4 linked regions of the Homo sapiens genome follow. The protein of the gene in region 4 purifies or fractionates together with the protein of the main gene of each other region. This does not show direct contact. Each region holds a gene or a part of one and is shown on either strand. Other genes may lie near its edges.

The links. The genes of interacting proteins can lie anywhere in the genome.
Region 1: the proteins of IQCF1 (region 4) and EHD4 purify together in Homo sapiens (affinity purification with mass spectrometry; one large-scale study listed by BioGRID and IntAct). This does not show direct contact.
Region 2: the proteins of IQCF1 (region 4) and TBC1D4 purify together in Homo sapiens (affinity purification with mass spectrometry; one large-scale study listed by BioGRID and IntAct). This does not show direct contact.
Region 3: the proteins of IQCF1 (region 4) and FAR2 purify together in Homo sapiens (affinity purification with mass spectrometry; 2 studies listed by BioGRID and IntAct, with this or other methods). This does not show direct contact.

The regions. Positions count from the first base shown.
Region 1 is NC_000015.10:41,962,558-41,966,057, forward strand, and holds part of EHD4 (EH domain-containing protein 4), read right to left. Parts: exon of another isoform or gene 3,431-3,500; intron 1-3,430. UniProt on the Homo sapiens protein: ATP- and membrane-binding protein that probably controls membrane reorganization/tubulation upon ATP hydrolysis. Plays a role in early endosomal transport.
Region 2 is NC_000013.11:75,472,170-75,475,669, forward strand, and holds part of TBC1D4 (TBC1 domain family member 4), read right to left. Parts: intron 1-3,500.
Region 3 is NC_000012.12:29,295,778-29,299,277, reverse strand, and holds part of FAR2 (fatty acyl-CoA reductase 2), read right to left. Parts: intron 2,258-3,500; coding exon 2,078-2,257; intron 1-2,077. UniProt on the Homo sapiens protein: Catalyzes the reduction of saturated but not unsaturated C16 or C18 fatty acyl-CoA to fatty alcohols (FAls). A lower activity can be observed with shorter fatty acyl-CoA substrates.
Region 4 is NC_000003.12:51,899,640-51,905,394, forward strand, and holds the start of IQCF1 (IQ domain-containing protein F1), read right to left. Parts: upstream 3,715-5,755; 5' UTR 3,634-3,714; coding exon 3,631-3,633; intron 3,451-3,630; coding exon 3,346-3,450; intron 3,186-3,345; exon of another isoform or gene 3,154-3,185; coding exon of another isoform or gene 3,151-3,153; intron 1-3,150. UniProt on the Homo sapiens protein: Involved in sperm capacitation and acrosome reaction.

The DNA of each region.
Region 1 (3,500 bases), on a different chromosome or scaffold from region 4:
CACAACAATATAATTGAGACAGATTTTACTTCCAGGTGGGTTAAAAAGTTAAATATTTAAAAAGTAATCCTATTTTAAAAAGAGCGCCCGGCCAGCCGCCCCGTCCGGGAGGGAGGCGGGGGGCAGCCCCCACCCGGCCGCCGCCCCGTCTGGGAGGTGGGGGGCGCCTCTGCCCAGCCACCCTGTCTGGGAAGTGAGGAGCCCCTCTGCCCGGCCGCCACCCTGTCTGGGAGGTGTACCCAACAGCTCATTGAGAACGGGCCATGATGAGGATGGCGGTTTTGTCGAATAGAAAAGGGGGAAATGTGGGGAAAAGAAAGAGAGATCAGATTGTTACTGTGTCTGTGTAGAAAGAAGTAGACATAGGAGACTGCATTTTGTTCTGTACTAAGAAAAATTCTTCTGCCTTGGGATGCTGTTAATCTATGACTTTACCCCCAACCCCGTGCTCTCTGAAACATGTGCTGTGTCCACTCAGGGTTAAATGGATTAAGGGCAGTGCAAGATGTGCTTTGTTAAACAGATGCCTGAAGGCAGCATACTCCTTAAGAGTCATCACCACTCCCTAATCTCAAGTACCCAGGGACACAAACACTGCGGAAGGCCGCAGGGTCCTCTGCCTAGGAAAACCAGAGACCCTTGTTCACATGTTTATCTGCTGACCTTCCCTCCACTATTGTCCTATGACCCTGCCAAATCCCCCCCTCGGAGAAACACCCAAGAATGATCAATAAATACTAAAAAAAAAAAAAAAAAAGAGGCAGGGCACGGTGGCTCACGCCTGTAATCCCAGCCCTTTGGGAGGCCGAGACAGGCAGATCACTTGAGGTCAGGTGTTCGAGACCAGCCTGGTTAACATGGCAAAACCTTGTCTCTACTAAAAAATACAAAAATTAGCCAGGCATGGTGGCCCATGCCTGTAATCCCAGCTACTTGGGAGGTTGAGGCACAAGAACCGCTTGAACTGGAAGGTGGAGGTTGCAGTGAGCCGAGAACGTGCTACTGCACTCCAGTGTGGGTGGACAGAGTGAGAGTCTGTTTCAAAAAAAAAAAAAAAAAGAATATGAGTGAACATTTCCTGAGTCTTAAGATAAACAAGGATTTTCTAACCAAAAAATAAAAGATATTATAAAAAAGGAAAAATTGTTAGATTTGATCACAAATATTAAATATATCTGCATGGAAAAACTATTACAAAAATTACAAGGCAAATTTCAAACTGGAAAAACACTTTTACAACTGTGACAAAGGATTGATATCTGTTACTGAGAAAAACATTTACATTTATTTATAAGAACAAGACCAGGGCCAGGCTCGGTGGCTCATGCCTATAATCCCAGCATTTTGGGAGGCCGAGGCAGGTGGATCATGAAGTCAGGAGATCGAGACCATCCTGGCTAATACAGTGAAACCCCGTCTCTTCTAAAAATGCAAAAAATTAGCCGGGAGTGGTGGTGGGCGCCTGTAGTCCCAGCTACTCCAGAGGCTGAGGCAGGAGAATGGCGTGAACCTGGGAGGCAGAGCTTGCAGTGAGCTGAGATCGCGCCACTGCACTCCAGCCTGGGTGACAGAGTGAGACTCCATCTCAAAAAAAAAAAAAAAAAAAAAAAAAGGACAAGACCAACACTTCAAATGAAAATTGGACAAAGTTCACAGACAATTCAGACAATTCACAAAGTAATATGGAAGACAACTATATTTTATAAGTTCAACGTCACTAGTAAGAAATAAACAAATTAAAATAAGTCTGTTCTGGCTGAGTGCCCCATGGCTCACGCCTATAATCCCAGCACTTTGGACTTTGGGAGGCCAAGGCGTGAGGATCGCTTGAGCTCAGGAGTTTGAGACCAGCCTAGACAGCACAGCGAGATCCCAACTCTACAAAAAATGAATAAATTGGCTGGGTGTGGTGGTGCAATGTACCTGTAGTCCCAGCTACTCCAGAGGCTGAGGTGGGAGGATTGCTTGAGCCCAGGAGTTTGAGGCTGCAGTGAGCTATGATGGCATCACTGTACTCCAGCCTGGGCAACAGAGCAAGACCCTATCTAAAACACTTTTTTTTCCTATCAAATTAATTTTAATTAGTTTTACTGGCAGTTTGGTGAATTACTGATCCTCATATTTCTGGTGGGAGTCTAATTTGGAATAACTGTCCTAAAAAAGAAAGATAGATACATAGATTTAGGAATATATATAAGCCTGAAAAAAAAAAAAAATATATATATATATTTTGAGACAAGGCCTCACTCAGTTGCCCAGACTGGAGTTCAGTGGTGCAATCTCAGCTTACTGCAGCCTCGACCACCTGGGCTCAAGTGATCCTCCCACCTCAGCCTCCCAGGTAACTGGGACTACAGGCATGCACCACCATGTCCGGCTAATTTTTGTATTTTTTTTTAGAGATGGGGCTCACCATGTTGCCCAGGCTGATCTTGAACTCCTGGAGTCAAGTGATTTGTCCACCTTGGCCTCCCAAAGTGCTGGGATTACAGGTGTGAGCTGCTGCGCCCAGCCTATTATCTATATTTTTTGAGGCACTAATTTATGCTTAGGCTATTCTAAGAAAAAAACTAGAAATACAAAGATTTATGGCCAAAAATGTTCAGTTCATTGCAACATTATGTATAACAGCATAAAAACAGAAACAACCTAAATGTCCAACCTGTACTATAGATTATGATGTAGTCATTGAAGTTATTTTTGAAGACTATATAATGACATAAGAAAATGCTCATCGTATCATATTAAGCAAAAAAGAACCCCATTTATTAAATTATATTTACACAATCCTCAGTTTTGTAAGCATGAATTCTATGTCTTCATCTAAGTCACTGAGAGAAATGTGAACAGATGGGGTTTGGAACGGATGGAAGGTTCAGCAAAGTCAGCCTCCCTTTTCTGGGTTGAGGCTAGCCCTCTTCCATTCCTCCATTAACTGAACCTTCATCTGGCAATGGTTCCCAAATGTTTCCTAGGGGAGGGCACATAAGAATTACTGTGAGAGATGGTTTAGAAAAACAAAAACAGATTTTGGAGCCTGACCCACAGAGATTTCGACTCAGGAGGTCTGAGGTGGGGCCCTGGAATCCGTGTCAAAAGGCCTCCAAGTGATTCTGATGCACAGCCACGTGCAGAAGGAACCACGGCCTTCTGGTTCGAGGTTTTGAAAAGGACATTGAACACCTTTTGTAAGTCAGCTTCTGAATGTGAGTTAGGGAAGATAATGTCAGGATGGAAAAAGCCTTCCCCCTCCTACATTTCTCCAAATACTCTGTTGCTGCTTGTCAGGTGGATGATGTGACAACTGGCCCAGCTGCTGGCCTGCAGCGCTTCCCTGCTCGGACTGCAGCTGCCAGCGCTCCCCTGCCCACCCCCCGCCCCACCTACTCACCTCCTGCCTACCCCCACCACCCCACCCAGCCCCGCCTACCCTGCAGCTCCTTGCCCTGCTCTTCAGGACTTTTGCTCCAAGTCTTGCCTCCTCTTTGTCTTCTGAGATG
Region 2 (3,500 bases), on a different chromosome or scaffold from region 4:
ATCCCAGCATTTTGGGAGGCTGAAGTGGTCGGATCATGAGGTCAAGAGAGAACAGCCTGGCCAACATGGTGAAACTCCGTATCTACTAAAAATACAAAAATTAGCTGGGTGTGCTGGCAGGCGCCTGTAGTCCCAGCTACTCAGGAGGCAGAGGCAGGAGAACTGCTTGAACCTGGGAGGCGGAGGTTGCAGTGAGCCGAGATCACGCCACTGCATTCCAGCCTGGGTGACAAAGCAAGACTCCGTCTCAGAGAAAAAAAATAAAAATAAAAAAAAGAATTGTGGATGGATTTAAAAGGGTCATGCCCACCACCACCACTATGTTCATGCCAACAGGCTTTTACAAAATTCCATACGACAGCCAAAATAAAATCTGTACAAAATAAAATCTGTCTGCAAATAAAATCTGTTAACAGCCTTAGAAGGAGCTAACAGGAAGGGGCGAGGACCATAACTAGATACTCTCTCAGGAAAAAGAAGGCCAGCTTCCATGACTAGAAAGAAATCCAATCAGGCAAGTAGTGCACAATCTGTAAAGAGTTAGGCAACAAGCATTGGGTGGTCTTCAAAGGGAGCAGCAGAATCAGGGAGTTCCAACACAGAATAATGAGGGATCCAAACTAGTCTCCTAAAGAACTTGCTACTGGAAATCTGGGAGCAATAATTACCTGGAGAATCAAGGAGAAAGGCTATCAGTTTAATTCAGGTAAACTCAGGAAAAGCTCTCAGACTGCCCAGCCAATGGGAATTAAATGACTGAAACCAAGGCAAGAGATGAGTTGAAAAAGCTGGGAGCCATGTAAGGACCAAAAACAATTTACTCATTGATATTTATTTATTTATTTGGAGACAGAGTAAGCTGTCGCCCAGGTTGGAGTGCAGTGGCACAATCACGGCTCACTGCAACCTCCACTTCCCAGGTTCAAGCAATTCTCATGCCTCAGCCTCCTCCTGGGTAGCTGGGATTACAGGCATGCACCACCACACCTGGCTAATTTTTGCTATTTTTTTAGAAGAGATGGGGTTTCACTGTGTTGGCCAGGCTGGTCTCAAACTCCTGGTCTCAAATGATTTGCTTGCTTCGGCCTCCCAATTTTTACTGAATTTTAAAAGGTCCCAGCCATAAATGTATTTGTCCAAGTTACATAACCCATTATTAAAAATATATATGAAGATACAATTGTAAGATACAAAAGAAGATACAATTGTGAGATACAGAAGATTTCTAGATTTGTTCGACCAGAAGCACTGTGTTTGACTTAGAATCTGAGACTGATAGTAAACTATTCACAAATTATGTAATATTGATAGCACAAAGTTTCCATGGTCCTAACTTAGAGAATTTTTAAAATTTGTGTGAAAATTCACAAAAGTTAAAAGTGAAGACTATTCAACTGGTTAAGGGTATCCACAAAATAAAAACGCTAAAGCAGCAGCCAATGTAGGCTCCTATTTTTAGCCAGAAAGATTCCATTACTTAGAGATCCTCTTTCCAACCCCAACATCTTGCAAGAAGTGAAACTTGGAAGAGATCAGTAAAACAGTAATAACAACCCTGATTTCCTTCTGCTGAGACTGCACAAACCTATGGCAAGATTATCTGAAATGAAACCAACCAAAGTTTTAATCCTATATTTTGTCCCTGTCATATAATCACAGATATCAAAGACATATTAAAAGATATTCATATACTTTATAATTCAATAAAATAAATTCAAATTCATGGTTTACTTGTTTTTAAATGTAGATCCTAATGATCTTTTATTCTAACCTAAAATTATAATGGTTATAAATACTATAGACTCATAGTTTATTCCCCCGCCATACTTAAAGACACTAAATCAAAGGTACACCAGAGTTCAGCCTTACCAGCCCAACAAATCAAACAAACTTTTTTTATTTCCCCTTAAAATGGAAAGTACATACTGGCATAACTATACCCAAGTGTGCATTCAGCACTAATTATTATTTTACAAACTTAATAAGCATATTTACCTGTGGAGATTTTTAATATGAGTAGGAAAAAGTGATAGTATAAAAGCTGATAAGACCAACAACTAAAAACTAATTTTCAATAACTGCATTCTAGTGTAGCAGGTAAGAAAACTGGCCGGGCACAGTGGCTCACGCCTGTAATCCCAGCACTTTGGGAGGCCTATGCGGGCGGATCACGAGGTCAGGAAATCGAGACCATCCTGGCTAACACGGTGAAACCCCGTCTCTACCAAAAATACAAAAAATTAGCCAGGCGTGGTGGCGGGTGCCTGTAGTCCCAGCTATTCGGGAGGCTGAGGCAGGAGAATGGCGTGAACCCGGAAGGCGGAGCTTGCAGTGAGCCGAGATTGCGCCACTGCACTCCAGCCTGGGCGACAGAGTCAGACTCCGTCTCAAAAAGAAAAGAAAACAAGCTTTAGAATCTGCCTGGATAGAAATATGCTTCTACCAAGGTCTTGTGACCTTGGAGAAATAATTTAACCTTTTTTTTTTTTTTTAATCTCACTTTGTCGCCCAAGCTAAAGTGCAGTGGTACGATCCAGGCTCACTGCAACCTCCATCTCCCAGGTTCAAGCGATTCTCCTGCCTCAGCCTCCCAAGTAGCTGTGATTACAGGCGTATGCCACCATACCTGGCTAATTTTTGTATTTTTAGTAGAGATGGGGTTTCACCATGTTGGCCAGTCTGGTCTCGAACTCCTGACCTCAGGTGACCCGCCTGCCTCAGCCTCCCAAAGTGCTGGGATTACAGGCATGAGCCACCACGCCCGGCCCATAATTTAACCTTTCTATATCTCAGTTTTCTCATCTATAAAATGAAGGAAATACTGGTACGTACTTCACCCAGTTACTGTGAAGCTAAAGGGTGATCTCCTAAGAGAAGCAGTGAGAGTAGTGCTATCACCCAGGAAGAGCTCAATAAACGTTCACTTTTAAGGAAATGCATTAAGGAGCTACTCAGACAAACTTGACAGTGCAATGTCAACATACCATATTACATACCATATTCCAACCTTAAAGTAACAAGCCAATGACATCCTTAGAGTTGGCACATCCCAGTGAGGTATTCAATTTGTATACATATTTTATGCAGACCATATGTCAAGAAAAATCCTTTACTTGGTCAAATAAGTCTGAATATACTATTACATTAAATCATAATTGAGCTGTTCTTCACTTTCCAAGGGGCTACATCCAAGTAACTGCATGTTGGCTTGGTTCAGACATGCCAATGTAGTCTAAAGGAAAGGGGACTCTGAAACTACCAGCCAGATATTTTTAAACAAACAGAAGCCTTGAGGTTTTTTTAAGTAAATAAAATTGTTTGCAGTAATTATTTAGGCTGGCCATTATCTTATTCACTAAATTGCCCAACTCTACTTCTTTTTGCATGATTTTCTTAATAGCCAGTATACTAAGCATGCTGCTATTTTTCTGACTTGATTCTTTTACTTATGAGGTAAATAATATACCAGATAATCTAGAAAATTCATGGAAATCATCAGT
Region 3 (3,500 bases), on a different chromosome or scaffold from region 4:
ACTATGGGTGAACTCTTACTTCTTTTCTTTTCTTTTTCTTTCTTTTTTTTTTTTTTTTTTTTTTGAGACAAAGTTTTGCTCTTGTTGACCAGGCTGGGGTGCAATGGTGCAATCTCAGCTCACTGCAACCTCCACCTCCTGGATTCAAGCAATTCTACTGCCTCAGCCTCCCAAGTAGCTGAGATTACAGGCATGTGCCACCACACCTAGCTAATTTTTTGTATTTAGTAGAGACAGGGTTTCACCATGTTGGTCAGGCTGGTCTCGAACTCCTGACCTCGGGTGATCCACCCACCTCGGCCTCCCAAAGTGCTGGGATTACAGGCATAAGCCAACACACCTGGCCTCTTACTTCTTTTCTCTGATGAACTCTCAGGCTCTTTTGCTACCTCAAATTGCACTATGACCTGTCAGGTGTTAGAGAGATCAGCAGTGGAGAAAGTCCCAGGAAACAATCTGGAATCAAAAGGGGTCTGCCCCTCTCCTGGACATATCAAATATGAAAACATCACATTTACCAAGAGACAACACCATAAGAGGGTAACTGACAGAAACCAATTCCATCCTGAAAATGCTCTGAGGCTTTAAACATACTTTATTGTCTAGACTTTGGGCCTCAGAATACACCTGCTTTTTCTCCCACTATCCTGATGAACTCTGCACTCTAAAATTTTTCTCTGTACCAATTTAGCAAACCTCCATTTATTAGCAACTTTAACCTCCAGATCCTTTAGATGACTTTCATTCTTCTTTGTCCTGGATATTTTTACATGACAGACAAAAATATCTATTCTCAGAGCTGGAGGAGATAAAAATGTTTGCCCTGAAGGTAATGAACTCTTGATTTAGCTAAAACTTTTTAAAGAGTATATATTAAATATAAATACAGTATTATATAAAATTATAATGTGACAAATTCATTGTGAAATAGTCCATTTTTCTGCTATAATACTTTTTATATAGTTTTTTACAAAAAAAAAAAACAAGGTAAACTTAGTAAAATGGAGCAGAAGAATAAAGAAGCAGAAAACAAACTTATTCTAAGACCTGAGCTGTGTTTTAAGATGAAAGTGGTTTCTGCTCATTGGCAAGAAGAGAAAAATCCTAGACATTATTTCTCTTGCATCCTAGGACAGTAAAGAAAGTGTGTCTCAGCCAAATAAGTCAAGAGACTGTCACCTTCTGCCAGATCTTGGAGCAATTCTTATTCTTCATTAGTTCTTTTTTTTTTTTTTTTTTTTGAGACGGAGTTTCACTCTTGTTGCCCAGGCTGGAGTGCAACGGCACAATCTCGGCTCATTGCAACCTCTGCCTCCCAGGTTCAAGCGATTCTCCCCAGGTTCAAGTGATTCTCCTGCCTCAGCCTCCCAAGTACCTGGGATTACAGGCGCCTGCCACCACATCCAGCTAATTTTTGTATTTTAGGCTGGTCTTGAACTCTTGGACTCAGGTGATCCACCCGCCTCAGCCTCCCAAAGTGCTGGGATTACAGGCGTGAGCCACCACCCCCAGCCTCTAGTTCTTTTTTATGAATTATTTGATTAAGTGCTGTTAAACACTCCCTAGCACTGCAATAAGTGTTTTATATAACTTTTTTCAACCTCACAACTATAAAATGGGCCCATTTTACAAATGAAGGACTTGGGGCTCAGAGAGGGCAAGGAATTTGCTCAGTCACACAGGTAGTTACTGGTGGAGCTATGCCAAACTCACGTCAGTCTGAATCAGACATTTTTCTTCTGAACTTTTATACTATACATTATACTTGCTTTATCCAGTGACAATGCTAAGTTCATTAAGAAGTGAGAAACAACTTCTATGTATAGTATTCCCAAGTACCTCATGCAATCCTACGCAATTCCACAAAATGTTTAAGAATTTTCTATCCCCCTTCTCTTTTAGCAGTATATTCCCCACCAGAACTAGCAGGGACAAGGTAGCTAAGGCTAGCACCGTTTCAAAACATTTTGCTTCAAAAGTGTTTGACTTCATCATCTCATTAATAGCTACAAAGAATCAAAGAGAACAAAGGAACTTATTCTACCCGCCCCTTGATCCTTTTATTAGACCAACTTACTCAAGGGAATCAATGATTTTTTTTGGCTCCACAGGGCACGGATAGATAACTTCATCGATGTGCTTCAGGTTACAATTTGAATAGGCAGTAGAGATATGTATAAAGGCTTCCAGCTTTGGCATCTGACTAGCCATAAGCAAGAGCTGCCGGGTGGCAGTGACGTTAAGTTGCACAGCATGTCTAGAGAAGATTAAGCAGAAGGAAATACAATGAAGTAAGTCAGTATCATGCCTTGCTATAACTGCACCTACTCCAATAACTGGCATACCTATCAGATTTTGGTGGCCGCACCAAAACACCAGGAAGAGAAGGATGGGTCATGGCTACACAGTTATGTGATACTCGGAATGTTTTATGTAGTGATGATGTGTTTTGTGCACATAAATCCTATTCACTGACACACTGTACATATATCTAGAGGACAATTGGTTCTAATCAACCGGAAAAAGAATTACAATACTCTGAATTTATAAAGGTGCTTCTATAGGCAGCCATTAAAAGAACACAAACATGTAAATTAAGCATCTAACTGAAGAAGTTGGAAAATGTAAATAAACTGGAGGGGAGCAACAGTACATTTTTTAAAGGAGCAATGTAAGTTGCTCTTGTAAAGATCCAGGCAAGACATGAAAATTGATGTCAAAATCTAAAATTGCAGCTAGTAGAATGCAAAGCTATATAAACAGTATGTGATAACAATGAAATAGTTCATTCCAGGAATACATGGTTTATCAAATACCAGGAAACTTACTAATTTAATTTAACTCAAATGAGAAAAACTATATAAGAATCTATATGTATTTTGAAAAGTTTAAAATGACATTTAATTTCCATTTCCAATTTAGTTAAACAAATTCACTAGAACTGGTGAAAAGCTAGGAGCACTGCTTGTAACGTCAGTGGTAGGAATAATGCCTACAATCACACTACTACTTAACATTGTTCTGAAGTCCTAGCCTTGGAATTAATTAGAAAAATAAAATTAAAGAACAGATATAGATACTAAAAAGACAGCCACAAAAATTACTGTCGGATTATATAATTGCATACATGGAAAACAGAAGCAGCTTTTTAAAAAAACTGAAATGTACTATAATTCAGTAAGGTGTCCACTGATAAAAATTACGTTAAAAGGCCGGGCGCGGTGGCTCACGCCTGTAATCCCAGCACTTTGGGAGGCCGAGGCGGGTGGATCATGAGGTCAGGAGATCGAGACCATCCTGGCTAACAAGGTGAAACCCCGTCTCTACTAAAAATACAAAAAATTAGCCGGGCGCGGTGGCGGGCGCCTGTAGTCCCAGCTACTCGGGAGGCTGAGGCAGGAGAATGGCGTGAACCCGGGAAGCGGAGCTTGCAGTGAGCCGAGATTGCGCCACTGCAGTCCGCAGTCCGGCCTGGGCGACAGAGCGAGACTCCGTCTCAA
Region 4 (5,755 bases):
AGTTTTTCTGTGAACTGGACATTAAAATAAAAGCACAACAGGTTTTTCTTAAAGCATTAACCTGCTCTTTAACAAAAATTATAAAAGGTTAAAAACAGTCTATAAAATTCTTACCTTATGGTCAGACATCAAAAATTGGATAAATATGTCTACAAGGTTTTATTAAAATTAAGTTTAACATTAATAACACACTTAATATAAAGGTGAAATTTAGCTTATCTGGTATAAAAATCATACAGGAAGCTTGTCAAATATAAAATGGTGTTTGGCTTTCTTTGGTCTAAAAACTAATAAAAATAGGTGCTAAAGGAAATTTCTCAGTAAGAAGGCACCAAGGACAATAAAGTCCACTGCTGATGTCCCCACATTTAAAACAAAAGGTCAGTTTCTTAGAAATCATATACTCGGTTTATCTTCCACTTTCCTTTCCCTCAAAACTAAAAGTCTTTTAGCACAGGTACCACCCCTAGAATTTCCGGTAAACCAGCACCAGCCTGAAGATCACATTCTCATCAAAGGGTGGAAAGAAGGAAAACTGCAGCCAGCCTGGCAAGGACTCTACCCTGTGCTGCTAACCACCGAGACTGCTGTTGTACAGCGGAAAGGGGATGGACTCACCACACCTGAGTCAAGAAAGCGCCACCCCTTCCAGAGTCACGGGCCATAGTCCCAGGGGAAAACCCTATCAAACTAAAGCTAAGAAGAATTTAACTCTCTTTCATCTATTCTATTACTCTTTCTTCTTTCCTCGCTCTATTGCTGACCATCTAGTTATTAACATAACCAAGTCAATTTCACTTCAAACTATTGCATTTGATGCTTGCCTTGTTATACCCTGTGGGGACTTGCCAAGTCAAAGACAGCTCTCTACTTCAGAAAAGTACCTCTGTCCCTCCTGACTCTCCTCAGACTGGGTATTAGTGAATTGGGACCATTTAATCCTGGGAGATTTTGATAAAGACCCCAGTGTCAACCAGGAGTCTTGCCCCGCGATGTAGAGCTTTTATACCATAGTTGGTCCAGGGTTCTGTGGACCACTAAAGAGCAAGGATGGACTGCCCCAACCGGTTTTTGTAATTTCCTAAAACCATACATTCATCTTACTAGAGGGACAGCCCCCGCCTCCCACTAACTGTCAGCTAAACCAGTGCAATCCTATACAGGTTATTACCTTGAATCCTCAAAGTTCTTTCCCTTTTCTAAGCCAGTTCCCTTCTTTAAGCCAGTGTTATGGTATGGGGGCTGAGGTTTCAGGGACAGACCCTATTGGATTCTTTGAAATGCATTTCTTTGAACCCCCACCGCCTGCACCTTCCTCTAAGCCTTCTTCCAAAACCTCTCACATGGAACAATTGCTCCTCCTCCATCTAACAACAAGACCAAGATAGCTATCGTAGAAGCGAAAGACTTAAAACAAACTTTGGCAATTAAGACAGGATACCAAGATGCAAATGTCTGGTTGGAATGGATCAAATATTCCGTCCGCACATTAAACAAAAGCAATTGTTATGCTTGTGCACCCAGCAGGCCAGGGGCCCAGAATGTCCCCTTTCCACTAGGGTGGTCCTCCAGTTGACTGGTTGTGGGCTGCATGGTAGCTCTTTTCCAGGATTCTACAGCCTGGAGTAACAAGTCGTGCCATGCTCTTTCTCTCTGCTATATTCTGAAGTCTGGCACCCTGTGGGTCGGCCCCCGAGGGTCATCCAGCTTCCATCTCCCAATACTAAGTTCACTTCATGTCTCTCACGACAGGGAGGAAACTTAGCATTCCTTGGAGACCTGAACGGATGCAGTGAGCTTAAGAATTTTCAAGAGCTTATCAATCAGTCAGCCCTTGTTCATCCCCGAGGGGATGTGTGGTGGTATTGTGGTGGACCTTTACTGGACGCTCTGATGAATATCTGAAGTGGCACTTGTGTTTTAGTCCAATTGGCTATCCCTTTCACCCTGGCATTTCATCAACCAGAGGAAGGAAAAATAAGACATCGTAAAGTGAGAGAAGCCCCTTATGGGTCTTTTGACTCTCACATCTATTTAAATGCAATTGGAGTCTAGCAGGGAATACCAGATCAATTTAAAGCCTAAAATCAAATAGCTGCAGGATTTGAGTCAATATTTTGTTGAGAGACAATTAATAAAAATATAGATTGAATAAACTACATATGCTACAACCAACAGCGATTTATTAACTACACTAGAGATGGTGTTAAAGGAATAGCTGAGCAATTAGGGGCTACTAGCCGGATGGCTTGGGAAAATAGGATAGGCTTAGACATGATAATAGCAGAAAGAGGAGGAGTTTGCCTCATGATTAAAACTCAATGTTGTACCTTCATCCCAAACAACACTGCCCCTGATGGAAGTATAACAAAGGCATTGCAAGGTCTGACTGCCCTGTCCAATGAGTTAGCCAACAACTCAGGGTTAAATGAGCCCTTTACAGGATGGCTAGAAAAGTGGTTCAGTAAATGGAAAAGAATTATAGCCTCAATTCTCACTTCCCTGGCAGCCGCAATGGGTGTATTTATTCTTGTTGGGTGCTGTGTCACACCATGCGTCCGTGGGTTGGTGCAAAGAGGCTCATAAAAACAGCACTTACTAAAACCTCCCTTAACTATTCTCCACCTTATCCAGAGAAGCTTCTTCTTTTGGAAAATCAAGCAGAACATCTAAGCCAAGACATGTTAAAGAAGTTTAAAGAGAAAGAGCTGTAAGGAAATGCAAGAGGAGAAGTTGTTAGGTATGAGTTCTAAATTTCTCTTCAAAGAATCAGTATGTCAATATGTTCAATTCTTTGCCTTCTACTTTTAAACTTAACTTCCTTGTAAAGCAACCTTTTTCAATTACCTGCTCCGCCCTGACTCATTCTGATTACCTACTCCCCCCTGACTCATTCCGATTACCGGCTCCACCCTGACTCATTCCAATTACCTGCTCAGTCTCCACCCTGACTCATTCCGATTTCCTGCTCCGCGGTAACCATTTTTCCCACCAAACCACTCACCCCATCACTCTCTTTAAATTAGCCAATCAGAATTAGTTTAGCCTGTGTGGTCTAACCCTAGCCAATAGGGGAATGACACAGCAGCAGGGGCCACGTGCATCAGGGATAAGAACCCCTTCCCCTCCCTTGTCCAAGTGTGCACTCACCATTGCTCCATCTGTAAGGGCGCACCCTTCTATAGAAGTACCTTGCCTTGCTGAGAATTAAAAAGAAAATTTTATATTTGAGTGCTATTTCTTTTGCGGCACAGAAACTTCACTTATAACAGCACCATGCAAAAGACACTAGCTACTAGCACTAGGACATGGGATCAATGACATCCAAGTCAGGGCTCCTCCTACCTCTGCCTTTGACTCTGCTCCTAAGGACAAATGGGTTGGCATCTCCTTCTGCTGAGGCTCATCTTCTTTTGAGGGTTCCTTCGTCTTTTGGGGCTGCTTCTCCTCCTGCAATCAGCATTAGGGGAAAGGCAAGAGTGAGGCTGCGGTCCCTCCCTCTCCATTCAATATGGCACACATCCCCAGCTTCCAGGGCTTCTTAGAGTCTTCAGTGTCAGGGGGTCCCTTCACCCTGAGAGATCTATGGGGACATCCCTAACAAGCCTGGTGTGTCTGGCTTTCTCTTACCATTGGTCACATATGGATTGATTGTAGATGGTTCAAATCCCCTCACATCTGTGTTCATCCAGCCATAGCATAGGCAGGAAGGGTGGAGGAAGAAAGGCCTGTGATGTCATAAGGGCACCTGTGACTCAGGCACCAGATGGCTCCTAACAAGTGAGCCCCCTCCAAGGGAAAGACAAAAGCGCTGCCCATTCTTTTCTGCCAGAAATGGCCAAAGCCCTGACTTCAAAGGCAAGATGCCAGAAATACTGGCCCATTGCTGTAAGGTTTATAAAAAGCCAGTCATTTCTAATAACATTTAATTGAAAAAACTTGGCCAGGCGCAGTGGCTCAGGCCTGTAATCCCAGCACTTTGGGAGGCCGAGGCAGGCAGATCAACTGAGGTCAGGAGTTCGAGACCAGCCTGGCCAACATGGCAAAACCTTGTCCCTACTAAAATTACAAAAATTAGCTGGGTGTGGTGGCTGTCACCTGTAATCCCAGCTACTCAGGAGGCTGAGACAGGAGAATCGCTTGCACCCAGGAGGTGGAGTTTGCAGTGAGCCAGGATCATGCCACTGCACTCCAGGCTGGGCAAGAGAGCAAGACTCCATCTCAAAAAAAAAAAAAAAAGAAAAGAAAAAACTTATATAGCCAACTTAAATAATCAATAGGGGATTAATTTAATGATGCATAGTTCATTCATACTATAAAATACTACATAACTATTAAAAATAAGAATTTGATCTATATTACTAATGAGGAAATATATAAAGATGTATTTATAAGTAAAAAACTAAAGTTCCTTTTGATCCCACTATGCAAACAAAACTAGGAACATAATTATACACATAAAATTGAATAATTTATGCCAGAAGTTATTACATGATACACATTATATGTTGTAAATGAATATAAAGAAGAAAAAAGGTATATATACCAAACTATTACCAATGATTACCTTTGGAGAGGAGAGTTAAATTGCTGACTCATGCCTAACACAGTCCCCAAGGAACCCCATGAGGGCCTGAGGACCAGCCTGGACTCCATCTGAGGCTCAAATGGGTCCAAGTGCTCTCCTGTCTTCCTCTGTCCCTGGGGTCTCAAGGCCACAATCAGATGGATGAAGGTGGCCACTGCACAAGCATGGCCCCTTTCTGCCTGATCTCGGCCTCTGAAGACCCAGCTGGACAGGGTAAGGCCATGAGAGGCACAGCCCCTGGGGTCACTGAGAAGTGCACTTGAAATGTATAGGGTGAGTATGGGAGAGGCCAATGTGGATCTGTAGGGGGAATGTAGGGAAGAGGAGGAGGCCATTTGAGGCTGGGATGTGAAGTTAATGGGATGAGGGGGTGGAGAATATGGGAATACATTGAAAGATGTGGGAAGTTGTGGGTGTGATATAGTTTGGCTCTGTGTCCCCACCCAAATCTCATCTTGAATTTTAACTCCCGCAATTCCCATGTGTTGTGGAAGGAACCTGGTGGGAGGTGACTGAATTATGGGGGCAGGTCTTTCCTGTGCTGTTCTCATGATAGTGAATGAATCTCAAGAGATTTGATGGTTTTAAAAATGGGAGTTTGGGCTGGGTGCAGTGGCTCATGCCTGTAATCCTAGAACTTTGGGAGGCTGAGGCGGGAGGATCATGAGGTCAGGAGATCAAGACCATCCTGGCTAACACGGTGAAACCCCGTCTCTACTAAAAATACAAAAAATTAGCCAAGTGTGGTGGTTGACACCTGTAGTCCCAGTTACTGGGGAGGCTGAGGCAGCAGAATGGCATGAACCTGGGAGGCAGAGCTTGCAGTGAGCTGAGATCATGCCACTGCACTCCAGCCTGGGCGACAGAGCAAGACTCCATCTCAAAAAAAAAAAAAAAGGCAGTTTGCCTGCACAAGCTCTCTTTGCCTGCTGCCATCCATGTAAGACGTGATTTGCTCCTCCTTGCCTTCCACCATGATTGTGAGGCCTCCTCAGCCATGTGGAACTGTAAGTCCAATTAAACCTCTTTCTTTTGTAAATTGCCCAGTCTTCAGTATGTCTTTTCAGCAGCTGAAAATGGACTAATACAGTAAATTGGTACCAGTAGAGTGGGGTGTTGCTGAAAAGATACCCAAAAATGTGGAAGCAACTTTGGAACTGGGTAACA